Homo sapiens: one gene and its partners. The protein of the gene in region 1 interacts with the protein of each later gene in a pairwise test. Each region holds a gene or a part of one and is shown in the gene's direction. Other genes may lie near its edges.

Region 1 (5,883 bases):
AGGGTATGAAAGACCGAATGCCCGGCTCTTACTGTTGGTTGGCGTGCTGGAGTCCAGAACCAAGGCTGGTTAAGATGGAAAGTGTCTGATGAAAGAGAATGATGCGCTGGGAGCTTTGTCTTCCTGACAAATTTGTTCTGTTCTTCAGGCTTCGAACCTAATGAACAATCCCCAGATTCAGCAGCTGTAAGTGACAACCGGGTTTCTTCGGGTCTTGTTGTGGTTAAATTTCCTTTTATTGTGGGTAAATTCACTTAACATAAAACTAACCACTTTAAAGTGTGCAACTTAATGGCATTAAGGACTTTCACACTGTCATGCAACTGTCACCACTATCACACTGTCATGCAACTGTCACCACCATCACACTGTCATGCAACTGTCACCACCATTGAGCACCAACCCATCTTCATCACCTCCGAAAGAAGCCCCTTCCCCCTCAGCTGTCACTCCCCAACCCCTCTCCTATCCCCTGACAACCACGCATCCCCTTCCTGTCTCTGTGGATGGGCCTGTCCTGGACATTTCGTAGAAATGGGATCACACACTGCGTGAACTTTGGTGTCTGGCGTCTCTCACTGAGCGTGACGTCCTCAAGGTGCATGTGTGCTGGGGCCTGGGTCAGGGCCTCGCTCCTTTTCATGGCTGAGTAATATTCCAGTGTGGAGGGACCACGCTGTGCTGATCCACACATCTATCCATGGACATTTGGGCTGTTTCTACCTTTTGTCTGTTGTGAACGGTGCTGCTTGAGCACGGGTGTGCAATCGTCTGTGTGAATCCTGTTTTCGTTTCTCTTGGATATAAACTTCTGAGTGCACTCGCTGGCTCATAGGGTCACTCCCCAGTAAGCGCTGTGCGCACTGGGGAGCTGCTCACCTGTTTTCATGGTGAAATCTTTTTTTCTTTCTCCTTTTTTTTTTTTTGAGACAGAATCTTGCTCTGTCACCCAGGCTGGAGTGCAGTGGCAGAATCTTGGCTCACTGCAACCTCTGCCTCCCGGGATCAAGTGGGTCTTCCCAAGTAGCTGGAATTACAGGCATCCACCACCATGCCCGGCTGATTTTTGCATTTTTAGTAGAGATGGGGTTTCACCATGTTGGCCAGGCTGGTCTTGAACTCCTGACCTCAGGTGATCCACCCGCCTCAGCCTCCCAAAGTGCAGGGATGACAGGTGTGAGCCACCGCGGCTGGCCCACGGTCAAATCTTAAAGCATGGTTTCCCAGCCACAGCACCGTGGCCATTTGAGCTGGACCAGTTTCTGGAGCAGGGCCGTCCTGGGCACTGCAGGGTGCTGAGCACTGTCTCTAGCCTCCATCCACTCCATGCCAGGAGCACCCCCTGCCCCTGTCTTGGCGTAACCCAATCATGGCTGTTGCAAATGTCCGCTGCCATTGCAGGGGTCCTCTGGGGGCAGGATCACCCCCTGGCTGAGAACTACGCTCTTTAGGCCAAAGAAAGAGGGGTGTTCTGGGAAAGCAGGTGAAAGTCACAGGGTGGGTTTGGGCCCTGGAGGCCCACCAGGTGGTGAGAGAGAATCCTCTCCTGCAGGGGAAGGTGAAGGGCTGAGAGGGATTCTCTCCCGGGCCACTGCGAGGGCCTGCAGTGGGGGTGGCGGTCAGGCTGTCCCGGCTGCGAGTCACGCGCTCTCTCCTGCAGCATGTCCGGCATGATTTCGGGTGGCAACAACCCCTTGGGAACTCCCGGCACCAGCCCCTCGCAGAACGACCTGGCCAGCCTCATCCAGGCGTGAGTGGAACTGCTTCCAAGAGGACGGAGGACGTGGGCGGCGGGCAGGGCTCGCAGGCGGAAGGGAAGGAGGAGAGCGAAAGTGCTGCGTCCCCTGCTCCGAAGGGCCCAGCGTCCTCCAGCGAGGGGTCAGGCCTGTCTTTGGGGTGGAGGGCCCGAGGGGTCAGCTGGGGATGGACGGAGGCAGCAGGCAGCCTCCTGGCCCTGGCTGAGCCCCATGTGCCCTTCCCCGCAGGGGCCAGCAGTTTGCCCAGCAGATGCAGCAGCAGAACCCAGAGTTGATAGAGCAGCTCAGGAGCCAGATCCGGAGTCGGACGCCCAGCGCCAGCAACGACGACCAGCAGGAGTGACGCTGCGTGAGTGCATGGGGCCGGGGGCTGGGGGGTGGCCAGCAGGAGTGACACCACGTGAGTGCCTGGCAGTGAGGGCAGCCAGCAGGAGTGACGCCCGGGGGCTGTGGAGCCTGTCTGGACACTGGACAGCGAGTCCTGGGTGCATCCAGCTCAGAAGATCACCCTGAACCGCCCAGGCAGGTGGGGGCATCTCTGGGCATTGGGCCCCTTTCCAGGTGGCCACCAAGTCCTGCTCCCCACTCCTTTCCCATCTGTGGATCGGCGCTGGGTGGAGATTAGGGGAGAGCCACAGCTCCCTGGAAGGGCTGGTGTCTGGGGTCCCCCCTGCCTAAGGCCGCCTGCAGAAGCTCTTTGTTTCTGCAGTGTCGGGGCTGCCACCTCGGGGGTGGGGGCGAGGTCATCGAGTGGTGGAAAGGACAAGCCGGGTACCTGCCTTTGACTGCGCCCGAGCGTTCTGCCTGCATTTTGTGAGGGATTTTTTGTCCTTTTCTCACTGTGAGCAGGTGTTGCACTTACAGTTGTTTAAAAATACACTCAGTGTCCCCCATGGGTTCCAGGGGCCCGTGGCTGGCTTGGTTTCCTTCCCCAGGGGCCCCTGAGTTCAGTCCTGTCCGTCTCCAGCAGACACCGGCTTCCCAGGGGTGGGAGGCTCCCCTGAGTTCAGTCCTGTCTGTCTCCAGCAGACGCCGGCTCCCTGGGGGCGGGAGGCTCCGGGCCTCCCCAGAGGTGTTTCCATTCTGCTCCCATGTGGCCTCTTCATTTTGTCGTTGTCCCCTCCTCATATACACTCTCTTTCATTTTTAAACCATAATTACTGTAGACAAATTTAAAATACAAAAATGTTAAAAAGCAGCAAGAACAATCTTAATCTTTTTTTTTTTTTTTTGAGACCGTCCTGCTCTGTCCCCCCGGCTGGAGGGCAGTGGTGCAGTCACGTCTCACTGCAGCCTCAACCTCCTGGGCTCAAGCGATCCTCCCGCCTCGGCCTCCCAAAGTGTGAGCCGTGCATTCAGCCCAACCTTAATCTTCTCACCCAGAGCCACCAACATTAATATTTTGGCCGCCTTTTCTTCCAGTCTTCCCTTTTTTTTTTAAATAAGCTTTTATTTATTTTTCCTTTTCTTTTTTTAATAGTTGAGGTGGATTTTTTACCACCGTAACCTCATACACAAAGTACCACCATACTGTAGACCCTTCTAGGTCATGGCGATGTTCTCTGCGCCACCAGCCACACGTGGCCCCGAGTGTGTGGAACGCTTCTGGTGCAGCTGTGGCTCTGACGTTCGTTGAAATAGCCGCTGTGGCCCCTGGCTGTCCACTCTGGGCCTCTCCTGCTGCCTGGAGTGTGTGGTGCAGCCTTGGTCCCCACCTGCGCTCTGACAGCCTTCATGTCTGTCCCCTTCCAGCTGCTCCCGGTGTGACCGCGTCCTTCCCTGGCCGACCCGAAGGAAGCCTTCTGGTTGTCTGCCACTTCCTCCTGTTGGACTGCCTGAGAGAGGGGAAGAGAGAGACCTCGGACCTGCATGTCAAGATGGATTTTCCCCTTTTATCTCTGCCCTCCTCCACTCCCTTTTTGTAACTCCCTTACAGCCCCCAGACCCTTCTTGAAACGAGAGCCAGCAAGCTGAGCACAGACCAGCAGCGACCTCCCTTCCAGCCCCCAGAAAGCTCGGTCACTTGAGTGTTTTCTAGAATCCTGGGGTGCTCCCGGGCCGCTCTCAGAGAAGTGGCAGGTTTCACGTTCAGCCGTGTGGCGGATCGTGTGGCTTCCAAAGCCTTTTACAGCCCCCGCCCCCCATCCCGTGGTCTGTCTGCAGGAACTCTCCCGTCTGTGAGAAGCCTCTTTCCGAGTCGACCTCCCGGCCACCCCGGCCCTGTGCCTGCTCGGAAGAGCTCACTGCCAGCTGCGGCCTGGGCACCGCGGGCCATGTGTGTTTGCATGAGGAACTCTTTAGTGGCAGACACCTAAGAGACGGCTGCGGTCACCCCACGCCTCCGCGGCTCAGGAGCCGTCCTGGGTGCATAGGACCAGTTTCTGTGACTTTTCTCCAGTTGGGCATGTTGACAGACATGTTTCCCCTCCTCCCACCCTCATTTTCTGGTCCTCGCGACTGAGAGCCAGGGGCGACATCATGACCTTCTGTCCCGGCCGCCTTAGCCCCGGGCACAGGGAAGGCAGCTGGGCCGTTTCTGTCTGTGTCCCATCCTGCTGTCCTTCTGTCCTGGATGTTTCATGGGCCCGGGGCCCCCCAGGGAAGCTTACCCCTCCTGTGCTGGGTGGAGGCCACGGGACACCTCAGGTGCCACCCACCTTGGCCCTAAAACAGCCACCAGGAAAGCAGCCGGAGAGCCGGACAGCAGGCAGCCTGTCTGGGTTCCTGAGGCCTGGGGGTGGCAGACGAGCCCACGGCGCCGTGGTCCCAGCAGCAGGGTTGTCAGTCGGAGCATCCTGGGGCTCCCTGGCTCCTGGCCGTCTGTGAGGTAGGCGCAGTACCGTGTATCGTAGGTAGCAGTAGGAACGGGGGCCGCCGCGGCCCTGCAGCCGCTCATGGCGGTGAGGTGTGTGCCAAGCCCACCCGGGGTGCAGGGCGTGACGTGTGGGGAATAAATAGGCGTTGTGACCTCTGTCTGTCTTCGTGTTGACCTTGGCGCCACCGATACCCTCCAACCCCAAACCTCGAGAAAACCCCCGACGCGGAGTTTGTGGATCAGCTGGGCTGCTTGTGAGTGAATCCCCGCGACGCCGGAGCCGCACTTCTTGGGTCACGGGTCACGGGTCATGGGAGGTTTCGGACAGTCAGCCTCTACCCTCTGCTGTCTCCCTTCCCTCCGCCTCCGTCCCCAGCTGCATCCCGGTGTAGAGGGTCACCCCAGGGTGGGGTGAGATGCCTCGGTCCTCAGCAGAGAGTGATCGTATTGTCTGTTGCTTTGCTTTGCTTTTTTTTTTTTTTTGAGACTTTCACCCTAGATGCCCAGGCTGGAGTGCAATGGCGCAATCTCGGCTCACCTCAACCTCCACCTCCCGGGTTCAAGTGATTCTCCTGCGTCAGCCTTCCAAGTAGCTGGGATTACAGGCATGCACCACCACGCCCAGCTAATTTTTTGTATTTGTAGTAGAGACGAGGTTTCTCCATGTTGGTCAGGCTGGTCTCAAACTCCCAACCTCAGGTGATTTGCCTCAGCCTTCCAAAGTGCAGGGATTACAGGCGTGAGCCACCGCACCTGGCTTTGTCTGTTGCTTTTCTAGCATACTGTAACTCCATAAATTCTGTATTCTGTAACCAAAGGCACCTCCCTTTCACAACGGCTCCAGTTGAGAGAATGGGTCAGTGAGGGAGTCCCAGGCAAGAAGGAGCCCAGAAAGCTTCCAGGCCCATCTCAGCCCCAACCCTAGGGTGCTGCACAGAGTTTTGTTGTGAACATAGAAGCTGCTCCCTTGGCCAGGTGTGGTGGCTCAAGCCTGTCATCCCAGGACTTTGGGAGGCTGAGGCGGGTGGATCACTTGAGGTCAGGAGTTCAAGACCAGCCTGGCCAACATGATGAAACTCCATCTCTACTACAAATACAAAAAAAGATTGGCGGGCATGGTGGCAGGTGCCTGTAATCCCAGCTACTCAGGAGGCAGAGGCAGGAGAATCGCTGGAACCCAGGAGACGGAGGTTGCTGTGAGCTGAGATAGCACCATTGCCCTCCAGCCTGGGGAACAGAGCGAGACTACGTCTCAAAAACATAAAAATGAAAGAACAACTCCCTGAAAGTCCTCTAAGCTTTCGTGGACTG
Region 2 (8,436 bases), on another chromosome or scaffold:
AAATGAATGGTCCCTCTAGGAAACAAGCAAGGCTTTTTGCTTTTGCAAACCTCTCTTCTTTAAAGGTTACCCCTCTCCCAGACTCAGTGCTTTCTTCCTCTGCCATCTCAGCAGACAGTTCACAAGCTGCCTCTTTTTGTTTATGCAGAGCAGCTTCAGAACTACAAATTAAACTCACCCAGACACAATCAATCTATTCTTCTCAAAGCCTCCCATTCTATGCTCCCACAGATTGCTCCACTCACCTTCAGTCCAAAGCAGAGGAGTCTTGAATCAGGGGAGAAGAGTGAAGGCAGGGCAGGAGCCGGTGTAAACCAGATTCACTCACCAAGCCAGAGGGCTGGTCTCCACAAATGAGTTTCCCCACAGGAGCTGAGTGAGAAACGAAAGTTAAATTCTCAGAAGTGAAAGAAAACAAAGGAAGCTGAACAAGAACTTACATAACAATAAACCCTGGGGAAAGTAATGCTACATTATGTTCTAGCATCTGCTGTACTGGCAAGGCACTCAGTCACTACTTCCTTATTCTTACTGTGGTTTACTCAAGCAAGAATATTTGAATAAAAAGAATGTGAATTACAGTTATACAGCTTGCCTGAATACTTAGAATTCCAATGCAGTCCTATAATTATTAGTCGAATTTATCTTATATTTAAGACCTAAGCCAGGAAAATAAAGATCCAGAGACTTGGGACCTAGCTTCTTGAAATGCAGTCTGACGAGGAAGATACTCAGTTATAAAGCTCTACAAATTTGGGCTGACAAGATGAGTATTAGCAGCTGACATTGTGAATGGTAAAAAAATTATTTTTATAAATAAAAGGATCTTTAGTGTGAGCCCATTGAAAAAAATGTTCTCAAAATGTCATTAAATCTTAAGAGTCCATCAATTAATTATCACTTCCTGCTCCTAATCCAGACAGACCAGATGAGGATGGATTCCAGAGAGTAATAGAGGTAAAACTGTGTCAGTGTCATGTTACCCAGCCACTGAGGCAGGTGAGAACATGGAAGTTAACAGATGATGCTGTTTAATTATAATCATTCATTGAGTTACTCTCATGCCTTCATAATTTTTCCACTTTTCCCTGCTTCTCTAAGAAAAGTTTGGTCATTTTTACACAATCAATTAAAAAGCAGCACTGAAACATGTTATACGTCATGCACATACTTCTGTACCCTGTTGTCTATTGTATTCTTGTTTAACTGCATGTGCCAGATAATGCCATCAAAAACTGATGGAGGCCTGTGGTGTCTCATGCCTGTAATCCCAGCACTCTGGGAGGCCCAGGTGGGTGGATCACTTGAGTCCAGGACTTCAACACCAGCCTGGGCAACATGGTGAAATCCCATCTCTAAGAAAAATTAAAAAAAAAAAAATAGCTGGGTGTGGTGATGTGCACCTGTAGTCCCAGCTACTCAGGAAACTGAGATGGGAGGATGGCTTGAGCCCAGGAGGTGGAGGTTGCATTGAGCCAAGATTGCGTCATTGCACCATAGCACTGCAGCCTGGGTGACATAGTAAGACCCTGTCTCTACAAAAAACAAACAAACAAACACCACACAACACATACACACACACACCCAAAAAAAAAGAAAAAAAAAGGCAACTCATGGAGCTTCCATAACATGGATCCCTGACTGACACTATGGAGCATGGCCATCTTCATACTTTAATCAATGATACACATGTAGGATGACTGAGAAATCAATGTTTATTATTTCAATAATAGATATTTTGGTATTATTTGTTGCTCACAGAATAATAAGCTAATCCTGGCTATAAATTCTTTCCTACTCACTTATATCTATGAGGACCTTATTCAATCAGCTGAAAGCCAGAATAGAAGAAAAAACTGACTTCTCCCCGAGAAGAGGGAATATTACCAGCAGGCAAACCTCAGGCGTGAGCTATAACGTTGACTCCTTCTTGGATCCAGAGCCTCTTGGCCTACCTTGCAGACTTTGGATTTGCCAGTCTCCAGAATCACCTGAGACATTTCTCAAGTTTCTTTCCAAATAAATTCATAGTTTAGTGGTTCTATTGCTATGATGAACCTTGACTAAGACAGGCGTGAAATTTTCTTATTTCTTCTTGAAGATAAATAAGCAAGAGATGTAATTTTAGGTATATTCCATGTTTGAATAGAATATCTTGTTGACATTTGTAGGGGAGTGAGCGCTCAGTGAGTGAATGTGTTTTTTCTGGAGTGCACAGAGTGGAGTCCGAGTGTCAACCACAATGGACAAAGTGAATGAACTCATTTATCCAGAGACCTGTTCTCTGTCCATTATTTCTTCCCTTCTCAGCACTTCCATAGATCTCATAGCCATCCTTTTATTCTCGTCTGGCTTTGAACATCTGAAGTGAACTTTCATCCTGGTCTGATTTATCTCATGAAGTATTAATTGCAGCTGAGAGAAAACAGTAGTAATATTAGGTCCTGACAAGATACCAGAAAACGTGGGCCAATAGAAAAACTGAATGCACCACACACAGTTTATCACCAGAGTAGAGCATGTTGGCAGGCTCCATATTCTAACCTATGTTCTAAATTGTAGAAAAAATATATTATTGTTGGAGCTCTGTGTTTTCTCTGTAAACCCTTTTTTTTTTTTTTTTTTTTGAGACGGAGTCTCGCTCTGTCGCCCAGGCCGGACTGCGGACTGCAGTGGTGCGATCTCGGCTCACTGCAAGCTCCGCTTCCCGGGTTCACGCCATTCTCCTGCCTCAGCCTCCCGAGTAGCTGGGACTACAGGCGCCCGCCACCGCGCCTGGCTAATTTTTTGTATTTTTAGTAGAGACGGGGTTTCACCTTGTTAGCCAGGATGGTCTCAATCTCCTGACCTCATGATCCACCCACCTTGGCCTCCCAAAGTGCTGGGATTACAGGCGTGAGCCACCGCGCCCAGCCTGTAAACCTTATATATCCTGCTTTCCTGCTTGAAAAGGAATCAAATGAAATATCTCTACCTTTGGGTCCATGGATATTTAACATTTTTCTCTTCAAGAAAAAGAGCAAAATAAGAGTAAATATGGTTAGAGTCTGAATAATACTTAGGAAGAAAACAGAGAGGATATTTTAAAAAATCGTTTAAAATTTGTTTAAAAATTTACATAATTACTTTTTTTTTTTTTTTTTTTTTTTTTTTTTTTTTTTTTTTTTGAGACAGAGTCTCACTCTATTGCCCAGGCTGGAGTGCAGTGGCATGATCTCGGCTCACTTCAACCTCCACCTCCCGGGTTCACGCAATTCTCCTTCCTCACCCTCCTGAGTAGCTGGGATTACAGGCATCTGCCATTACACCTGGCTAATTTTTGTATTTTTCGTAGAGATGAGGTTTCACCATGTTGGTCAGGCTGGTCTCAAATTCCTGACCTCAAGTGATCCACCCGCCTTGGTCTCCCGAAGTGCGAGGATTACAGGTGTGAGCCACTGCAAATGTAATCATTACATAATTATTACTAATGCCACATAATTATTACTAAATAACAATTAGTAATATTAATTATAATTGTAACTATTAATAATTGTAATTATTAATAATACTAATTATTATAATTATTACTATAATTATTACTGCCACATAATTATTACTAATGCCAGAAGAATATTTGAATTAAACTAGGTGACACAGCAGTTATCTTTACAGCAAGAATAGAACAGAAATGTGACATCAAGATATTCAATTAAAATTAGATTAATAGCTATATATCTTCATATCTATTTAAATATTACTCCTTATATACACCATATTCTAGTAAATCTGAGACAATAAAGAACAAAATGCAAAAGCCCCCTACCTGATTTCATGAAACAGAAAGCTGCGGGGGTACAGTGTGGAGGGGGTATGAGGTTACTGATGATGGAATTAAGTGATAACAGGCTGCCCACTGCAGTGCTCCCCATTGCCTTCTCCTGAGGCATTTTCATTTTCAAACTAAATACTCCTCTCTACCAATGATCCTAGTTCCAGTGTGGACTTCCTGAGATGTTCCAGTAAGGGAAAGCTTAGAAGGGAGGCTATGGTACATGGACCACAGTTCAGCCTTTTGGACCAGTTTTGCATAGTAACCAGAAGAGAAGAGAGAGGAAGGCCTGGCCCTGCTCAGGGATGCAATAGATACTTTGGAAAAGACAACAGCGGGAAGTTGGAGAGTTCTTTGAAAGTGAATAGTTGAAAGAAATAATGTGGTATTTCTTTATCGCTCTCCAGATAAACTTCTTTTTTTTTTTTTTTTTTTTTTTTTTTTTGAGACGGAGTCTCACTCTGTCGCCCAGGCTGGAGTGCAGTGGCGCGATCTCTGCTCACTGCAAGCTCCGCCTCCCGGGTTCACGCCATTTTGCTGCCTCAGCCTCCGGAATAGCTGGGACCACAGGCACCCGCCACCATGCCCGGCTAATTTTTTATTTTATTTTATTTTATTTTATTTTATTAGAGATGGGTTTTCACCGTGTTAGCCAGGATGGTCTCGATCTCCTGACGTTGTGATCCGCCCGCCTCAGCCTCCCAAAGTGCTGGCATTACAGGCGTGAGCCACCGCGCCCGGCCCTCTCCAGATAAATTTCTAGCATCCTGTCCTCTCTGGGTTTCGGAGTCTTAATAATATGACATCTCTCCTACCTGCAGCTCCTTTTCTGTTCATAGGTCCTATAAGATTTTTAAGTCCAGACCAGAAATCTACTGCAATTCTCTAAAAATCATTAACTTTGTTCTTCCTTCTCTTTGGGCCATATCTGTCACCCAGAAGCAGAACTCAGCTGTGAGATCAGGAGCAAGAGGAGCACATTGGAAGAATTTCGAAAAAGGGCACCTTTTCTAATTTTTAATACTTGGCTGGGTTAATCTGAAACTATGTCAGAAGAAGTGGCATGATAACAAGATCCTGAGACTCAAGAGAAAAGGGAGATTGAGTGGGAATGCCTCTAGTTCCCACGGCTCCTCCTGTGAACAGCACAGCTACACGGCCCGGCTGATTCATTCAGAGGGCGGGACTCACCAGGCCCTACGTGGAGAAATGCCATTGGCCCATAGTTTATCTTTCACTTTCCTGCCCTGAGTGTGAGCAAGAATTTCCTGCGGTTCCTCTAGGAAAATTCCTTTGTGCAGATCAGGCCCGTGGATTGGTGAGTGAATCCTAACCACGTCTTCCCTGGCCTGTCTTCACTCTTCTCCCCAGAATCACCACTTCTGCACTGGTGTCTGAAGGTGTATTGAGTGATTTTGTGGAGGGCAGAAGTAGGAAGTCTTTGGGACAAAACTGTATTTACCTTGGTGAGTTTAACTTATCTGAAAAGCTGTGCGGGGGTGGGGAAAAGACACAGTTCACAGACTTCTTGCTGCCAGAGCTGACTGAGGGGAACAGAGCCGCCTGGCGGGCAGGCAGATTTGAAAGAAGGGAGAGCTTTAAAGTGAAGGGCTTTGTTTCCCGAAGGCTGGTTATTTTTCCATGCTGACTCTCTCCCCATCCCCTCCCTACTCTATACTTTTTAATTGAACTTTGCTGTAGAGAGCCAGAATTCTCTCTTTCAGTGTCTTCTCCCAACAACAAGGGCAAAGACAGGGGCCTTGGAATCCTAATGATTTAATGCCTATTAGTTTACTAATGTAGTGTTTCTGCATAACTCTACAGGTCAGTTCTCATCACCTTGGCCTGGCTCTGTGACATCAGCCTTCATGGTGTGACAGCTGTCCAGTTCTGTAGTCCTGTCATTGTCACTGTAAATGGAGTTCTTTCCCTAGTTCATATTGGTTACAAAGATAATGGGAAAAAAGGCAAGCAGGTTTTATTTCTTGCTAGGAGTGGAGAGTAAGAGAGCTCCTTCTCTAAAGCCCCCTCCCCCAAAACAGTGGAAAGCATTGGCTTTAAAAGAACTGAGTACGGGGAGAGAAAGGAGTGTTAGCCTATAGGGTGGAACTCCAGTTGTGCCACCTCTGTTTATAAACACATGTCTTCATACTGTGTCCGGAATTGGTGGGTTCTTGGTCTCACTGACTTCAAGAATGAAGCCGCGGACGCTTGCAGTGAGTGTTACAGTTCTTAAAGGCGGCATGTCCGGAGTTTCTTCCTTCTGATGTTCGGATGTGTTCAGAGTTTCTTCTTTCTGGTGGGTTCGTGGTCTCGCTGGCTCAGGAGGGAAGCTGCAGACCTTCGCGGTGAGTGTTACAGCTCATAAAGGCAGTGTGGACCCAAAGAGTGAGCAGTATTAAGATTTATTGCAAAGAGGAAAATAACAAAGCGTCCATAGTGTGGAAGGGGACCAGCGCAGGTTGCCACTGCTGGCTCAGGCAGCCTGCTTTTATTCTCTTATCTGGCCCCACCCACATCCTCCTGATTGGTCCATTTTACAGAGAGCCGAGTGGTCTGTTTTGACAGGGCACTGATTGGTGCATTTACAATCCCTGAGCTAGACACAAAAGTTCTCCAGTCCCCACTAGATTAGCTAGATACAGAGTGTAGACACAAAGATTCTCCACATCCCCACCAGAGTAGCTAGATACAGAGTGTCGATTGGTGCATTCACAAACCCCGAGCTAGACACAGGGTGCTGATTGGTGTGTTTACAAACCTTGAGCTAGATACAGAGTGCCGATTGGTGTATTTACAATCCCTTCGCTAGACATAAAGTTTCTCCAAGTCCCCACCAGAGTAGCTAGATATAGAGTGTCGATTGGTGCATTCACAAACCCTGAGCTAGACACAGGGTGCTGATTGGTGCATTTACAATCCCTTAGCTAAACATAAAGGTTCTGCAAGTCCCCACCAGACTCAGGAACCCCACTGGCTTCACGCAGTGGATCCTGCACCGGGCCGCAGGTGGAGCTGCCTGCCAGTCCTGTGCCATGCCACGCACCTGCACTCCTCAGCCCTTGGGTGGTGATGGGACTGGGCGCCGTGGAGCAGGGGGCGGTGCTCGTCAGGGACGCTCGCGCAGCACAGGAGCCCAAGGGGTCGTGGGGAGGCTCAGGCATGGTGGGCTGCAGGTCCTGAGCTCTGCCCCGCGGGGAGGCAGCTAAGGCCCGGCGAGAAATTGAGCACAGCAGCTGCTGGCCCAGGTGCTAAGCCGCTCACTGCCCGGGGCAGCGGGGCCGGCCGGCCACTCCGAGTGCGGGGCCCACCAAGCCCACGCCCACCCGGAACTCCAGCTGGCCCACAAGCGCGGCGCGCAGCCCCGGTTCCCGCTCGCCCCTCTCCCTCCACACCTCCCTGCAAGCTGAGGGAGCCAGCTCCGGCCTTGGCCAGCCCAGAAAGGGGCTCCCACAGTGCAGCGGTGGGCTGAAGAGCTCCTCAAGTGCCGCCAAAGTGGGAGCCCAGGCAGAGGAGGCGCCAAGAGCGAGTGAGGGCTGCAAGGACTGCCAGCATGCTGTCACCTCTCAATACAACCCAGGCACACAAAATGGTGGAGATTTTCTTGTTTGGTGTCGTGTGGGGGAGGGGGTAACTTAACACTCTAGTGATATGTTAATGATCTAAAGGCAATTAGGGATTGTCAGTTCCAGTATATACGCTGGTTCGGGGGTCTAATTTCCCCCTTGGATCTGGTCAGGGGTCAAGATCTGGACCATGCTGGGCAGTCTGGCTTCTTCTTAAGCAACTTTGTCTATACATAAAGGGAATAAAGAAAAACGTTAAGAAAAATAACTTTCCCAGTCATTTCATCAGGGCTTCCCTGGTGACAGCATCTGTTTGCCTCTACTAGGGCACCAAGTCCAGACTCAGGGAACTACTGGATTTTCTTAAAAATCATTAACCTTGCTCCTCCCTCTCCGTGGGCCGTATCTGCCCCCCAAAAGCAGAGCTTAGGTGAGATACGAAGAGCAGGAGAAGCATGTGGAAAGAATACCCAAGTAGCTGGGATTACAGGCACCTGTCACCAAGCTCAGCTCATTTTGTATTTTTAGTAGAGACAGAATTTCACCATGTTGGCCAGGCTGGTCTTGAACTCCCAGCCTCAGGTGATCCGCCTGCCTTGGCCTCCCAAAGTACTAGGATTACAAGCGTGAGCCACCACACCCGTCTGGTTAAGTTAAATATTAAAAGCTGAAGCCGGGCACGGTGGCTCACGCCTGTAATCCCAGCACTTTAGGAGGCCGAGGCAGGTGGATCACAAGGTCAGGAGTTGGAGACCAGACTGGCCAATATGGTGAAACCCCATCTGTACCAAAAATACAAAAATTAGCCGGGTGTGGTGGTGCGTGCCTGTGGTCCCAGCTGCTCGGGAGGCTGGGGCAGAGGAGTCACTGGAACCTGGGAGGCAGAGGTTGTGGTGAGCCGAGATTGTGCCATTGCACTCCAGCCTGGGCGACAGAGCAAGACTCCGTCTCAAAAAAGAAAAAAAAATATTAAAAGCTGATAGAGCCAGTGCCCTTATACAAAGGCTGGAATGTAACAGAAGCCCACTGAGAGTTTTGCCCAGGCCTTTCCTGGGCCTT
Region 3 (7,709 bases), on another chromosome or scaffold:
CGCAGCTTGCAGTGAGCCAAGATTGTGCCACTGCACTCCAGCCTGGGTGACAGAGCGAGACTCCGTCTCGAAAAAAAAAAAGAAAACAGAAAAAAAAACCTCTTAAACTTATCAAGATGTGTTTTATGGCCAAATAGTTTATTTGGTAAAGGTCCTGTGTACCCTTAAAATTATGTAGTTGTTGGGTGGAGAGTTCTATAAATGCCAATTAGGTCAAGTTGGTCAATGGTGTTGATCAAGTCTTCTGTATCCCTGCTGATTTTCTGCCTACTTGTTCTTTCAATTATTAAAAGATTTTACTTGAAATCTTTAACTGTAATTATGAATTCATCTATTTTTCCTTTCAGTTTAATTCGTGTTGGAGCATGGGATTTATGTTTCATTTTAATTTCTCAGATCACTCTAATATGCAGCCAGCGTTGAGGGACATTGCTTTAAGCCAATGGTTCTCAAACTTCAGCATACATCAGAATCACACAGGGAACTTGTTATTAATAGAATAGATTGATGGACGCTACTCCCAGAGTTTGTGGGGTGAGGTCCAAGAATTTGCATTTCTTTCTTTTTTTTTTTTTTTTTTTTTTTTAGTACAGACGGGGTTTCACCATGTTAGCCAGGATGGTCTCGATCTGCTGATCTCGTGATCCACCCGCCTCGGCCTCCCAAAGTGCTGGGATTACAGGCGTGAGCCACCGCACCCGGCCAAGAATTTGCATTTTTTATAGTTCCCAGGTATTTCTGATATGCTGATCCAGGAGCCACACTTTAAGAATCACAGTCTAAGCCAACATTTCTCAACCTTAGCTGCATATTAGAATCATCTGGGGAGCTTTAACAATCCTGATTCACCACACAACCCAGATCCATCCGCTTTTAAGGAATAGAATGTGAGGCAAGTTTCCACTAAGCAGTTCTCTACTTGACTTTTCCCTTTGGCTTAGTGATTTTGGGGTCCCAAGATTTATTTTCCTTTCACAAGTTCCAGCACTTTGGGAGGTAGGCAGATCACCTGAGTGCAGGAGTTCAAGACCAGCTGGTAACACAGCGAGACCTCATCTCTACAAAAAAAATACCAAAATTAGCCAGTCGTGGTTGTGCATGCCTGTAGTCTCAGCTACCCAGGAGGCTAAGGTGGGAGAATCACCTGAGCTGGGAGGTCGAGGCTGCAGTGAGCCGAGATCGTGCCACTGCACTTCAGAGCCTGGGGCACAGAGTGAGACCCTGTCTCAAAAAATAAAAACAAACAAAAACTAGAGCTCTTCTGATAGCCCAAGAGCCAGTTTAGAGATTCACTAGGCAAAGGGCCACGAGAGGCAGATGGGAATATTTAGAGATGAAGTCATCCAGTCCATACAGCTATTCTATAAAAGGGGAACCTAGGCTGGGCACGGTGGCTCACGCCTGTAATCCCAGTACTTTGGGAGGCTGAGGCAGGCAGATCACCTGAGGTCAGAAGTTCAAGACCAGTCTGGCCAATATGATGAAACCCCGTCTCTACTAAAAATACAAAAATTAGCTGGGTGTGTTGGTGGGCACCTGTATTTCCAGCTACTTGGGAGGCTGAGGTAGGAGAATCGCTTGAACCTGGGAGGCGGGGGTTGCAGTGAGATGAGATCATACCATTGCACTCCAGCCTGGGCAACAGGAGTGAAACTCCATCTCAAAACAAAAAGAAAAGGAGGGGGTGGGGAACCTGGCTTGCTGTGGGCAACTAGAAAGTATGAAAATAGTCCAGAATTGATAGGCAGCAGATGAGGCAGTTCTTACCTCACTGTGCCCCTAAGCTTCAGACCAACCCACATAGCCATTGACAGCAGATATTTGCACTTGGATATCCTAAAAGCATTTCAAACCCACTTCCAAAAGTATTCCCCCCGACCCATTTATCCCATCAACCCCCACCTACTTCGCCTTTGGCACCCAACTCAATAAATAGCCGAGGGCAAGAACCCGGGAATCATACCTCTCCCTTTATCTCCATGTCTTCAAAGTTACCAAATTCTGCTACAAGTCTTTTAGATCCATCTCCTCCTCCCTATTTCTTCTGCCACAGTTCAAGCCCTCAGTGTCCCTGGATTTTGTTACTACAGATGTCTAACAGGTGTCCTGGCTTCCACTTCTTGACCTGTTTCAACACGTCTGCTGCCCTGCCAGCCACCATAGAGAGCTTTCTAAAACAGAAAGTGTATGTCATTGCCCTATTTATTATTCATTTGTTCTCTACCCCTGGCAGGACAAAGCCCAAAGTCACAAACAGTCCCAATGTATTTATGATTTTGCCTCTGGCCTCTTCTCACATGTCATCTTTCACCACTCATAACTTCAGCCAAGCCCAAGTTTTGCAGTTCCTTCAATGCCACCTTTGGCTTTGACACTAATGGCTCACTCTTCCTGGAAGTGCCCCCCTTCTTCTACCCTTTGCCTGGCTAAAATTAACTCACCCAGACTCAGCTCAGGCTGGTATTTTTCCTGGCACCCCTTTTATAACTCCTTTTGATACTTCCATAACATCTTGTGCAAACAAGAGTCACTACTCACCCTGAACTGTGTTTGCTCACACATCTGTGTCCCTCGTTAAACTATGAGCTGTGGGGTGGCAGGCACACTGTCCTATTCAGCATTTGATATTAAATATTCATCCAACAAATATCTGAGGACCTACTATATGCCAAATACTGTAGATGTAAAGGGTATAGCAGTCAACAAAGCAAAGACACCCCTTGCTATGAAGTGGGAGGTGGCATAAATAAATGAACCTATACATAGAATGAAAAGTGCTGTGCAGATAATTAAAATAAACAATAATATGAAAGTGACTGGACAGGCCGGGTGCGGTGGCTCATGCCTGTAATCCCAACACTTTGGGAGGCCAAAGCGGGTGGATCACCTGAGGTCGAGAGTTTGAGACCAGCCTGACCAACATGGTGAAACCCCGTCTCTACTAAAAATACAAAATTAGCCGGGTGTGGTGGCACGCGCCTGTAATCCCAGCTACTGGGGAGGCTGAGGCAGGAGAATTGCTTGAACCTGGGAGGCGGAGGTTGCAGTGTGCCGAGATTGCACCATCGCACTCCGGCCTGGGCAAGAAAAGCGAAACTCCGTCTCAAAAAAAAAAAAAAAAAAAAAAGAGAAAGGAAAAGAAAAGAAAGTGACTGGACAGGTACTTTAGATTGGGTATGTCAGGAAGTCCCGTCTGGGGAAGCGACATTGAAGCTGATAAGTGAATGTCAACAAGGCAGGCATTCTGAGCTTTGGAGAGAAGAGCACTCCAGCAGGGAGGACTACCAGAGCAAAGTCCGGGCGGCCCACCAGAGCAAAGGCCGGGAGGGCCAAAGGTCCGTGCGCCTTAAAGTGTGGGAAAGTAGTGAAGATGGGGAGACAGGAAGGCAGGGGCCAGATTTACCTTTGCAGGCTAGAGTAGAGTTTTGATTTTTTTTTTTTTTTTTTTTTGGAGACCGAGTCTCGCTCTGTCGCCCAGGTTGGAGTGCAGTGGCACAATCTCGGCTCACTGCAACCTCCGCCTACCCGGTTCAAGCGATTCTACTGCCTCCGCCTCCCGAGTAGCTGGGACGACAGGTGCGTGCCACCACGCCCAGCTAATTTTTTGTATTTTTAGTACAGACTTGGTTCCACCATGTTGGCCAGGATGGTCTCGATTTCTTGACCTTGTGATCCGCCCACCTCGGCCATCCAAATGCTGGTATTACAGGTGTGAGCCATCACACCCGGCCAAGTTTTTATTTTATTCCAAGTGTGATAGAGAGAGACATGATCTGACTTATATGTTTTGAAAGATGGCTCTGGGACTGTTATGTGGCTACTGGGCTGTCCGGAGGGGAAACTGAGACCCGTTTGGAGGAGAGGGAAGTTGGTGGCCTGGATAGAGTGGTGGCAGCAGTTCTGGAGAAAGTGGATGGATCTGGGTTATGTGGTGAGTCAGAGTGGCCAGGAACAAATGACAGGCAGATGAATTAGGGTGACCCTTAGATTTCTGGCTGCATGCAACACTCGGGTAGTTACTGGGGAACCGAGCAGACGCTCAGACACTTCCGAGCCTTGAGAAATCCGTTCTCCCGCCAGGCTTCGGTGTGAGTTAAAGTCGGGCAGCCGGAAAGCGACAGGCTCAGACCCGCAGCCGGTGGCCTCGTAGCGCCGGGACGCCGGGACGCCTGGATACCGGGAGAGCGCTGGGACTCTCCGAGCCCGGCGCGGGGGTTTCCGCATCTTACGGGCGGGGCCGGAAGAGGAAGTCGCGCTGCTGTGGCGGCCGCTGTAGCAGCGGCGGTCCAGTCGTAGCCCGGCCGCCCGCGCCTGTCCGGTCCGGTCCGGCCACGGAGGCAGCGCAGCGGCGGGACTCCGAGCCTACCCCGCCGAGTGAGCTGCGCCGCACCGTGCCGTCCCACCCGGCACCCACCAGTCCGATGGGGCCGCAGCGGCGGCTGTCCCCTGCCGGGGCCGCCCTACTCTGGGGCTTCCTGCTCCAGCTGGTAAGGGGGCGGGAAGGCGCGCAGGCCTCCCAGGGGCTGGGCGGGGCCGGGGCCAAGGCCGGGGCTCCCTTCCCCTACTCCTCGCCCGGCCTCCCCTCTGCCCGCACCTCCGCGGCCTGCTCTCGCACTCCTCTTTCCTCCCCTCCTCTTTCCATTACTCATCTCTTTCCTTCCACCCTCCTCTTTTCCACCCTCTTTCCCCCAACTTTCCCGCCCCCCACTCGGTTCCCGCCCATTGAAGTCTGGCGAAATACCTACCGCAAAAAGATCAGAGGAGCCCCTTAGGTTGCGTTGACCTTGATGCTTCTCGATAGTTGCTCACTGTCCCAGCATATTTAAAATTGACCTCTGGGTTTTATTGTCTAAGCCTTTCTTACCGCTTTTTACCCTTGGGAAGAAAAAAAAATTATACAAGGCGCCAGTATGTTTAGCGGTTCGAGGACTGCACTTTAATTGCACTAACACGGATGTCTTTTTAAAATTCCCTTCCCCCACTGTAGCTCCTGCTTCGCCTTAGGGCTCATTTGATTCTGTTATGAGGGTTTTTTTTTTTTGGAGGGGGGGTTTTAATAGCAGTAATTTAAAATAACTTTTAAAAGAAGACACCAAAATGTAATGCTTTTAGTGGTTTTCAGTTTTCTGCCTAATTTAAAGGGATGGGTGGGGAGCGTCGGTTAAATGTAAGTAAGAAATATGTGTTCATAGATTTGTTTTCATAGTCACAGAGAAGTAATAGTGTTTTAAAATTCAGCCTCAAGTAATTCGAGCTTCAGTGTGGGAGTGGGGTGTCAGGAACCCGGTGTTTCAGTTTTTGTTTCTAGTGACTTTTACTTAGGGAGTTTCAGGTTGGAAACTTACGCATGTTATTTATTACAGAATTGGTGTCGTGTAAGCTTGTTTCGTTCTATTAGAATGTGTGATTTCTTTGAAAGACTGTTTTGCTGACTCTCCAGTTTAAGGGGTTAGTATTAGTGAATACAAAAGTGTCTTTAATATTTATTGAAAAACCAAAATCTAAGCCAAAAAGTAAGTGCCTTTTGGTGTATTCATAACTTTGACAGGCAACATCAGGAACCTGAGAGAATGTATCTAAAAATTGCTGGGGGAGGGGAGTTCGATATAAAAAGAGCAACAAAGTAGCAGTGTTAGTCGGAGTCTTTAAGGTGTTTACTGTGTAATCAGACAGATAATACTTATGTCCAAAAGATATTCAGATAGTATGTAGATGTATGCAAAACTATAACCTAGATATAAAACTTTTCAAAGTGTTTTTGCATTCATTTTCATTTGAATCTCTTGAGCTGATTTTAAGAATGAATATCACATTCGTACTAATCCCTTCTCAACATAAATTAATAGCTTAGTGATACATCAGTTCCTCATAAACTCACATTGAAATTCTTATTAAAGGCCCTGAGCCCTCTCACCAGAAAACTCTACTTAAGTAGACTTGTCATTTGATTTCATAGCCTTCACAAATCTAAAGATCATCCCTGTTCTAAATTGTATCTAGGCTGTCTCCCACGTTCTGGATTTTAGGCCTTTTTTTGTTGTTGTTTTTGTTTTTTTCGAGACGGAGTCTCACTCTGTCGCCCAGGCTGGAGTGCAGTGGCGCGATCTCGGCTCACTGCAACCTCCGCCTCCCAGGTTCAAGCAATTCTCCTGCCTCAGCCTCCCGAGTAGCTGGGATCACAGGCAAGCACCACCATGCCCAGCTAATTTTTGTATTTTTAGTAGAGATGGGGGTTTCACTATGTTGGTCAGGCTGGTCTCGAACTCCTGACCTCGTGATCCACCCTCCTCGGCCTCCCAAAGTGCTGGGATTACAGGCGTGAGCCACCATGCCCGGCGATTTTAGGCCTTTTATATTGCACCTATGTGCTTTGTTGTACCTCACCATGGTAATCTCGGGTTCTATATTCCTCGGTTCTAGGGTTGTTGTGAAGATTAAGTAACATTTTTCTACACTGCAAATGTTTGGTGTGCATCTTATTATATGGGATGTAATGTCCTGATGACTGAATAAACTGACAATATCTGTTTAAATTGTAAGGATCTTTTTTCGATACCAGCTAGTATCACTGATTTTTCTATTTCTTGTTGATTTCTTTATGGATTTGTTTTCTTCTTGGTTCCTCCTTCCTTTAATTTCCTGAGATGTTCTTTCTCATTCCTTTCGTGTTCTGAGAACTTGGGTAGATCTGGTTTCCTTTTCCTCAGCTGGAGTTCTTTCTCCTTTCTGGATACCTAGTTCCTTTCCTCCAACTCTGTCTGAAGTCTTCTACCATTTTCTCCCTGAAGCCCTTTGTTTATTCCTCTTCCCTAATTTTACAGCTCTAGGTAGCCTTTCTGAGTTCCTTTGATTAGTGATGCCAGCTCAATCATTTCATTTCTCCTCTCTGGGCTCTTGAAACTGGCACTACTTGTCCGGGCGTGGTGGCTCACGCCTGTCATCCCAGCACTTTGAGAGGTCCAGGTGGGTGGATCACAAGGTCAGGAGTTTGAGACCAGCCTGGCCAATATGGTGAAACCCCGTCTCTACTAAAAAAAAATACAAAAAAAAAAAAATTAGCCGGGCGTGGTGGTGCGTGCCTGTTATCCCAGCTACTTGGGAGGCTGAGGCGGAAGAATTGCTTGAACCCGGGAGGCAGAGGTTGCAGTAAGCCAAGATCGTGCCACTGCACTCCAGCCTGTGTGACAGAGCGAGACTCCATCTCAAAAAAAAAAAAAAAGAAAAGAAAAAAAGAAACTGGCACTGCTTCCCCTTAGTCATGTAATAACAGGGCCAACATCCTCATCTATAATGGAAGCAGCACGTAGTCTTCAGAAACCACTGGCACATCCATCTAGAAGAGGCAGAGGATTTAGTATTGGAAAGGCCCTTAAAGATCATTTGCCTACCCTCCTCATCTTGTCATCTTCACATCAGAGTGACCTCACTGTGTATTTTGAACTGAAGCTACAGCACATCTGGCTGTTTTAATATTTTTTAAACCCATTAGGTCTAGAAATTAAATGAGCGCCTAGCAGGTAGTTAGCTGTGTCTTGACCTTGCCATAAGTACATTTTATTTTTTGGGTTTTTGTTTTTTTTTTTTTTTGAGATGGAGTCTTGCTCTGTCGTCCAGGCTGGAGTGCAGTGGTGCGATCTCAGCTCACTGCAGCCTCCACCTCCTGGGTTCAAGTGATTCTCCTGCCTCAGCCTCCCAAGTACCTGGGATTA
Region 4 (7,843 bases), on another chromosome or scaffold:
GGCCTCGAACTCCCGACCTCAAGTGAACTGCCTGCCTCAGCCTCTCAAAGTACTAGGATTACAGGTGTGAGCCATTGCACCCAGCCTGATTTTTGCTTTCTTATAGTGCAAAAGTCACCCTGTGGGTATTCACAATTTGTCCCTAACCACTAGAGGTTTTCATGAACGTATCCTTTGTAGCATTCCAGAAGGTCAACTTCTTGACAGAAGCTGTCTCCCAACATCAGTCAGTACTCAAAAATGTGTCAGTTACCAGAGAAGGGGTTATACCCTGATACTTCAATCAATTACTCTGGCATTGTAGAAACTAATAAACAGCTCCAAATATTCTATGATATCTTAAATCAAAACAATTAAGGAAGAGGCAAGGGAAACAAATAGTGCCTGCTGCGATGCTTTCTCATTTCCCTTTGGGAAGATAGGGTTGCTTGTTTTCCAGGAAGTCATCCCTTAGGAATTTTTTTTTTTTTTTTGACAGAGTCTTGCTTTGTCACCCAGGCTGGAGTGCAGTGGTGCCATCTCAGCTCACTGTAACCTCCACCTCCCAGGCTCAAGTTGATTCTCATGCTTCAGCCTCCCAAGTAGCTGGGATTACAGTCGTATGCTACCACACCCAGCTAATTTTTGTATTTTTATTTTTATTTACTTATTATTTTGAGATGGAGTCTTGCTCTGTTGCCCAGGGTGGAGTGCAGTGGCAGCATCTCTGCTCACTGTAACCTCTGCCTCCTGGGTTCAAGCGATTCTCGTGCCTCAGCCTCCCGAATAGCTGGGACTACAAGTGCGTGCTACCATGCCTGGCTAATTTTTTTGTATTTTTATTAGAGAGGCGTTTCATGTTGGCCAGGCTGGTCTCAAACTCCTGACCTCAGGTGATCCACCTTCCTTGGTCTCCCAAAGTGCTGGGATTGCAAGCGTGAGCCACTGCGCCTAGCCTAATTTTTGTATTTTTAGTGGGGGGTGGTTTTGCGATGTTGGTCAGGCTAGTCTCGAACTACTGACCTCAGGTGATCCACCTGCCTCGTTCTCCTAGTGCTGGGATTATAGGCGTAAGCCACTGCACCCAGCCAGCAATTTTTAATTCTCTATTTTTTGCTCTGGAGGTCCTAAGTTTTAGATTCAGTGACACATTGCTGTGCCATTCATGCTGCTGGGTACTGTCGATTAGCAGTCAGCATCCATTCCCATCTCCTTCTAGTGTCCCTTCCTATGCTGCAGAATCTGGAGAGTTAAAATGTCATGGCCAGGATTTGGAAATGAAGTGGAGGCCACCCGCCTGCTGCTTGCTGCTGAAGTGTGGCAGCAAAGGTATGAGGTGTGTCTGCAGCAGGGTTGCAGGGTCCAGTCACTAGCCATGTAGGGGTCGAGAGCCTGTTTCAGGGGCAGCAATAGTGATGGTGACTTCCAATCCCTTAATCACAGCCACAACAGTGTGTTGTTGAGCTTAACAGGTACAGTGGTGATGTCCTGATTTCTTACCTTCCTGATTGCAGCAAAAATGGGTAGCTACCCTGTTGGGACAGTTTGGAGTCATCCCTGCAGAGTCATTCTCTAGCCTCCCTGATAATTTGTATTACTTAATTCCTTATATGAATTCTTTTCTGTTTAAACTAGCCAGGTTGCTTTTTGCTTAAACTAGCCAGGTTGGTTTTAACTGAACCTTGAAAAATATACTGAAGTTCAGAGCATCTAACACTAAAGGTTGTGCTGGTCTTGGTGGCGAGAGTAAGTCCCACAGCAGACCACAACAGATCTAGAGATCATAAGGCCTCTAACATTTCCTATGCCTAGTTGTCAGGGGCATGTCCTATGCAGGCCACCCCAAAAAGCCCTTTTACGTTAGCAGTCTGGAATGTTACTAGGTCATCCAGTACAGGTTGCGTGTGCCATAGTCATAAAATTTGGGACCTGAAACTTGGAGCCTGGATGCAGGAGATGTGGAATGAATACTAGGGTGAGTTCCAGGTACAGTCATAATTAAGGTGAAGGCATCAGTGACATGACTTCCCAGGTAAGAAGATACAAAAGGCTGAGCCCAGAGAAGCTTGGTGCTCCTCACTTCTGATGCTTTCTCTGCTGCTATGATGATCAAAAGTCCTCAGCACCTGAGCTGGCCTTTGGGAACCAGGTGGCAAGGACAGCCACACTAACAGGAAAGATGTAACTGCTGCTGTCCCTCTCTGGGTATCCAGCTTTACAAGAAATAGGTAAACTACTTTTCTTTGATAGATAGTATAGTGGTGTTTGGCTGACATTTTACCTTCTAAAATTATTAAGTTATCTTTAGAGTGAACTGCAATTACATTTTTGACAAGCTCTAAAATATATCCTAAACAAACCCCTCCATCTCTACCACCTCTACCCTATCCCCAGTTATCAGCATCTATCAGCAGGGGAGAGATCATATCTTATCTCTTCCCTGCTTAAGATCCTTCGAAGGTGTCCCTTCACATTCATAAGAAAAAATCCAAACTCCTTAAGGTGGCCTACAAATTCCTACATAATCTGGCCTTTGCTTCTCTATCCATTCATATTTCCTGTCGCTTGGACTGGCTACATAATTTGTGGGGCCCAATGCAAAATGAAAATGCAGAGCTCCTTGTTCAAAAACTACTAAGAATTTTAAGAGGGCAATGGCAGAGCATTAAACCAGGCATCAGCCCTTTCCTTTTTTTTAATTTTTAAAATATTTATTTAGATTTTCTTTTTGTTAGTAATTAAATCTTTCTTCTTCTTCTTCTTCTCCTCCTCCTCCTTCTCCTTCCTCTCCTTCCTCTTCCTCTTCTTCTTCTTCCCTCTTCCCTCTCTCCTCCTCCTCGTCCTCCTCCTCCTTGAAACAGTGCAGTGGCACAATCTCAGCTCACTGCAACCTCCACTTTCCATGTTCAAGTGATTCTCATGCCTCAGCCTCCCGAGTAGCTGGGATTACAGGTATGTGTCACCATGCCCAGCTAATTTTTGTATTTTTAGTAGACACTGGGTTTTGCCATGTTGGCCAGGCTGGTCTCAAGTGATCCGCCCGCCTCAGCCTCCCAAAGTGCTGGGATTACAGGTGTAAGCCACCGCACCTGGCTCTTTTTTTGTTTTGTTTTGTTAAGTATAAAACCTCACCTGGAAGCACCAGCCCTTTCTGAGTGTGCGGGCCTGTGCCACTGCGTGGGTTGCACGTCCATTAAGCTGGTCTACCTGCCATCCACTTCCTCAACCCAATGGCATTCTCCTGTTTCTTAGATATGTACCAACCGGTTTTCTGTTTTATCTTAGCATGGCTCACTACTCCTCATTAGGGTCTCTCAGCGAAGGGGGTAGCCTTTTTTTTTTTTTTTTTTTTTTTTGAGACAGAGTCTTGCTCTGCTGCCCAGGCTGGAGTGCAGTGGCCAGATCTCCACTCACTGCAATCTCTTTGGTTCAAGCATTCTCCTGCCTCAGCCTCCCAAGTAGCTGGGATTACTGGCCCACGCCCGGCTAATTTTTGTATTTTTAGTAGAGATGGGGTTTCACCATGTTGGCCAGGCTGGTCTCGGACTCCTGACCTCAGGTGATCCACCCGCCACCACTCCAGCCTGGGCAACAGAGTCTGAGACTCCGTCTCAAAAAAAAAAAAAAAAAAAAAAAAAAAGTCATACTGGCATAGAGTGAACCCCTAATCCAATATGACTGGTATCCTTATAAAAATACTTTTTTTTTGGAGACGGAGTCTCTCTCTGTCGCCCCAGGCTGGAGTGCAGTGGCGCGATCTCGACTCACTGCAACCAAAAGGAGACATTTTGACATGGAGACATATACAGGGAATATGCCCTGTGAACATGAAGATGGCCATATGCAAGCCCAGGAGAGAAGCCTGGAAGAGACCGTTTCCTCACAGCGCTCAGAAGGAAAGAACCCTGCCAACATCTTGCTTTCAGATGCCCCCAGGATTGTCAGACAATAAGATCTGTTATTGACGCCACCGGGTTGGTGATACTTAGGTACAGCAGCCCTAGCAAACGAATACACCCCCATGAGAACTAAGCTCCCTGAGAGCGGTAAGCTGCCTTGTCTTGCTCACAGCTGACAAGAACACGCCTGTACGGTCACTTAGCACCTAGTACTGCCATTTAACCGTTTCACTAGTATGTATGAACCGGAGAGCCTGTCAAGGGAAGAGCTGAATCTTTTATCTTTTGTAACGACTACCCAGTGAAAGAAACCGCGGGTATGCAATAAAAACCTGTTGAATCGATTAAACCATTTCCCTTATTTCCAGATTTTTGCGGAAAGCGCCAGTAGGTGAAATATGTGCGGACTGATGAGTCAAAGCTCTTATTCCCTGGACTGCATTAATACCCACGACGTGCTTTTCGCTCTCCAGACAAAGAGACCGGTACTTGGCAGGTCCCTCAAGTGGGACTCAAAAGACCGAACCGAGCTGCAGCCTTTCGCTAGCACTGGTCCTCGCCCCTTTTGGCATCTTGGTACTTGTAGTTTTGTCCACTCTATCTTTACCCGAAAAGCCAGCGCTGAGACCACAACTCCCATCACCCTGCGAGCACCAGCGCCTTCAGAGCGCATCCTCCGAGGGGCACCAGCGCCATTGACCACCCTGCTGGCCGAAGGGCCCGCCTTCCCGAGGCCAGGCGCTCCCGCGATTGGCCAGCCGCCCCGCCTCTCATCGGAGGGCGCCAGGTGAATGAAAGGGGGGCGTGTCGGTGCGCGGTGCTCCGTGGCTGCGCTGCTGGAACCCGCTGGAAGGTGAGCGCGAAGAAGCGGGTTGGCGCTGCCGCTTTCGTTGGTTTGGGGAGGATTCCTAGCACCCGGGAGGCTGGCTGGAGATTGGGGTTAGCGGGCAGGGTTGCCCCCACTCAGTCATCCTCCTTCGGACCGCTTGGCCCTGGCAACTCCTGGGACCTCCGCCCCGCGAGCCCTTCTAGCGTGGGGAGGGGCAGGCGCGGCCGTGGGGCCCCAGCTTCCCTGTCATTGGGTGTCCTCCGCGTCGTCCAGCCGGGGGTCGCGGCGCCGACTACTTCCACGGTGAATGGTGCCCAGGCGTGGGGGGCTCGGCCACACTGGAGAAGTGCCAGCGGCAGCGATGGCCACTTTGTCCGCGGGAGGCCATGGGAGGGGCTAGGCCTTGGGGTCCCACCCTCGGGGGCCGTGCCCTGTAGCTGGTTCTGGTGGCCTCTCTGCAGGTCGTCTGATGCTGGACGGGGGAGGGTCTGTCTTGCGAGCAGTTTAGATGCAGTTGACCCTGAAATTCTTCGTATGGAAATGGAAACTTCTCCAGTGTCCTTCTCCTCCGATCCATGCCTAAAAGAAAGGAGTGACTTCCCCAACCTGTCGCATCGTGTCCTGGAGGGTTTGAGGAGGCCGGTTAGCATAGTGGTTAAGGATGTCAACCCGGGAGTCAGTCGGATCTCTGTTCTATTACTAACTTGGTGATGTTATCTGCATCTTTGAATCTCAGTTCCTCCTCTGAAAAAGAGGATGTAGTTAGAGTATCTGTCGTACTGGATTATTGTGAGGTGAAAACTAATGTGCTTGTAAAAGCCAGGCATGGTGGCGCGCACCTGTAGTCCCTGCTACTCGGGAAGCTAAGGTTGGGAGGATCTCTTGAGCCCAGGAGTTCCAGGCTGCATTGAGGTAGGATCGTGCACTCCAACCTGGGCAACCGAGCAAGACCGTGCCTTTTAAAAATTTTAATTTAAAAAGTAAAATGAATATGCTTGTACTTTGTACAGTGTTTTATAAGGAATAGTGCTTAATATTTACTAAAATTGAGGAGCAGGTTTTTGTTATTCTCAGGTTGGTGGGACTGGAGGAGTCTTGTCAGAAAGGGTCGGAGGTGGAATTCAAGGCTGCTTTTGGCCTCTGAACAGAGACAGTTGTGTGATCTGGCTAGGACTCCCTCAAGGGTATATGAGAGTTTGTATTGCAGGTAGTTGTGTTGGCATCTGCTGTCTCCTGGAGGACAGGCACTATACTTGGTTCATTTTTCTATTCCTGGCATCTTCCTTGTGTCAGGCATTGTATGTAGCCGGTAACCGTTGAATTGAGTTGGAACCGTGGGATGGTTGGGAGGTTCCCTGCCAGAGTGCGGATAAATGTGCTTCTGAGAGCAGTCTGCCCTAAGAGCTGCTCTTCTGGGATAAGTGGTGATCCTCAGCACTTCCCGGGGCAGCAGAGCACTTCAGGCAAATGGGGGTGATATAAATAAATATTTACACAATATATACCAAGTACAGGATTGGGGAAAATTTTGAAGAAAATACTATACGGATAGACTTTTGCAACGTCAGGAAGTAGAATAAAAATAATTGCAATAGAATAAAAAATAATTTCAGTAAGAAAGCCAAAAGAAATTGGTTTTAGGTGCTATTTCTGGAAAGGAGGCTTTTCCAGTGAAAGACGGAAGTGCCCTGGGAAGAGCCCCTATAGATCAGACCATACTACAAGTTAAGAAGTGTTGTGCGTACTTACATATTTATCTACCTGGCTTACCAACTCCTTACCCCTCTGCCCTGCCTCCTTTTTTTCTTAGTTAACAAAGAAAAAAGCCAAGGCAGAAGGATCACTTGAGTCCAGGAGTTCAAGACCATTGAGACCAGCCAGGGCAACATAGTGAGACCCCATCTCTACAAAAAAATGTTTTCAGAATTAGCTGAGTGTGGTGCTGCATGCCTGTAGTCACAGCTACTTGGGAGGCTGAGGTAGGAGGATTGCTTGAGCCTGGGAGGTCGAGGCGGCAGTGAACTGTGATCATGGACTGCACTCCAGCCTGGGTAACAAAGTAAGACCCCGTCTCAAAAGAAAAGAAAAGCAATACATGCACATAGTAAAACATTCTATCAGAAAGGTTTAAAATGAAAGGCGAAAGTCCCTCCACACACTTGTTTTTTTTTTTTTTTTTGAGATGGAGTCTCGCACTATCGCCCAGGCTGGAGTGCAGTGGCACAATCTCTGCTCACTGCAGCCTCCGCCTCCACCGCCTCCTGGGTTCAAGTGATTCTCCTGCCTCAGCCTCCCGAGTAGCTGGGATTACAGGTGCCCGCCACCATGCCCAGCTAATTTTTTTGTATTTTTAGTAGAGACGGGGTTTCACTACGTTGGCCAGGCTGGTCTCGAACTCCTGACCCCAGGTGATCTACCCACCTTGGCCTCCCAAAGTGCTGGGATTACAAGTGTGAGCCACCACACCCGGCCCCAAGTGGATTTTAAACTTGGTTTATAGTTTATCTACTAAGCAGTTAAGAAATGAATATTCCTTTTTTGCTTAACAAATCTATTTTGTCCAAAGCACTCTGCCAGATACTGTAAGGGATATAAAATTGAATAAGACATGGCTCATGCTTTCAAAGGGCTTGTAGTTCATTGACAGAGAAGGGCCAGGACATAAATAATAAACAGGAGTTAACCAAGGGTAGTGGAATCAGTCAGTTAGGAGTCTCCCAGTTGCATGAAATAGAAAACCCAACTCAGAGGCCAGGTGTGGTGTCTCACACCTGTAACCCCAGCACTTTAGGAGGCTGAGGGGGGCAGATCACTTGAGGCCAGGAGTTCGAGACCAGCCTGGGCAACATGGCAAAACCCTGTCTCTACCAAAAGTACAAAAAAAATTAGCCTGGCGTGGGGGTGGGTACCTGTAGTCCCAGCTACTCGGGAGGCTGAGGTAGGATGATTACTTTAGCCAGGGAGGCGGAGGTCAGAGTGGGCCGAGATCACACCACTGCACTGCAGCCTGGGTGACAGAGTGAGACCCCATCCCCCATCTCAAAAAATAATAATAATAATATTTAAAAAAGAAAACCCAACTCAGACCAGCTAAACCAAAAAGGAACTTAATTGGCTTCTGGCACTGCTTGAGTTG

What was found.
Region 2: the proteins of SGTA (region 1) and TRIM5 interact in binary tests that used the Homo sapiens proteins (3 or more experiments, as listed by UniProt).
Region 3: the proteins of SGTA (region 1) and SPPL2A interact in binary tests that used the Homo sapiens proteins (3 or more experiments, as listed by UniProt).
Region 4: the proteins of SGTA (region 1) and ZBTB8B interact in binary tests that used the Homo sapiens proteins (3 or more experiments, as listed by UniProt).

The regions. Positions count from the first base shown.
Region 1 is NC_000019.10:2,753,560-2,759,442, reverse strand, and holds the end of SGTA (small glutamine-rich tetratricopeptide repeat-containing protein alpha), read left to right. Parts: intron 1-148; coding exon 149-186; intron 187-1,660; coding exon 1,661-1,750; intron 1,751-1,985; coding exon 1,986-2,100; 3' UTR 2,101-2,106; intron 2,107-3,509; 3' UTR 3,510-4,728; downstream 4,729-5,883. UniProt on the Homo sapiens protein: Co-chaperone that binds misfolded and hydrophobic patches-containing client proteins in the cytosol. Mediates their targeting to the endoplasmic reticulum but also regulates their sorting to the proteasome when targeting fails.
Region 2 is NC_000011.10:5,681,709-5,690,144, reverse strand, and holds the start of TRIM5 (tripartite motif-containing protein 5), read left to right. Parts: upstream 1-5,070; 5' UTR 5,071-5,277; intron 5,278-8,436.
Region 3 is NC_000015.10:50,762,246-50,769,954, reverse strand, and holds the start of SPPL2A (signal peptide peptidase-like 2A isoform 1 precursor), read left to right. Parts: upstream 1-4,248; 5' UTR 4,249-4,421; coding exon 4,422-4,487; intron 4,488-7,709. UniProt on the Homo sapiens protein: Intramembrane-cleaving aspartic protease (I-CLiP) that cleaves type II membrane signal peptides in the hydrophobic plane of the membrane. Functions in FASLG, ITM2B and TNF processing.
Region 4 is NC_000001.11:32,460,375-32,468,217, forward strand, and holds the start of ZBTB8B (zinc finger and BTB domain-containing protein 8B), read left to right. Parts: upstream 1-4,697; 5' UTR 4,698-4,731; intron 4,732-7,843. UniProt on the Homo sapiens protein: May be involved in transcriptional regulation.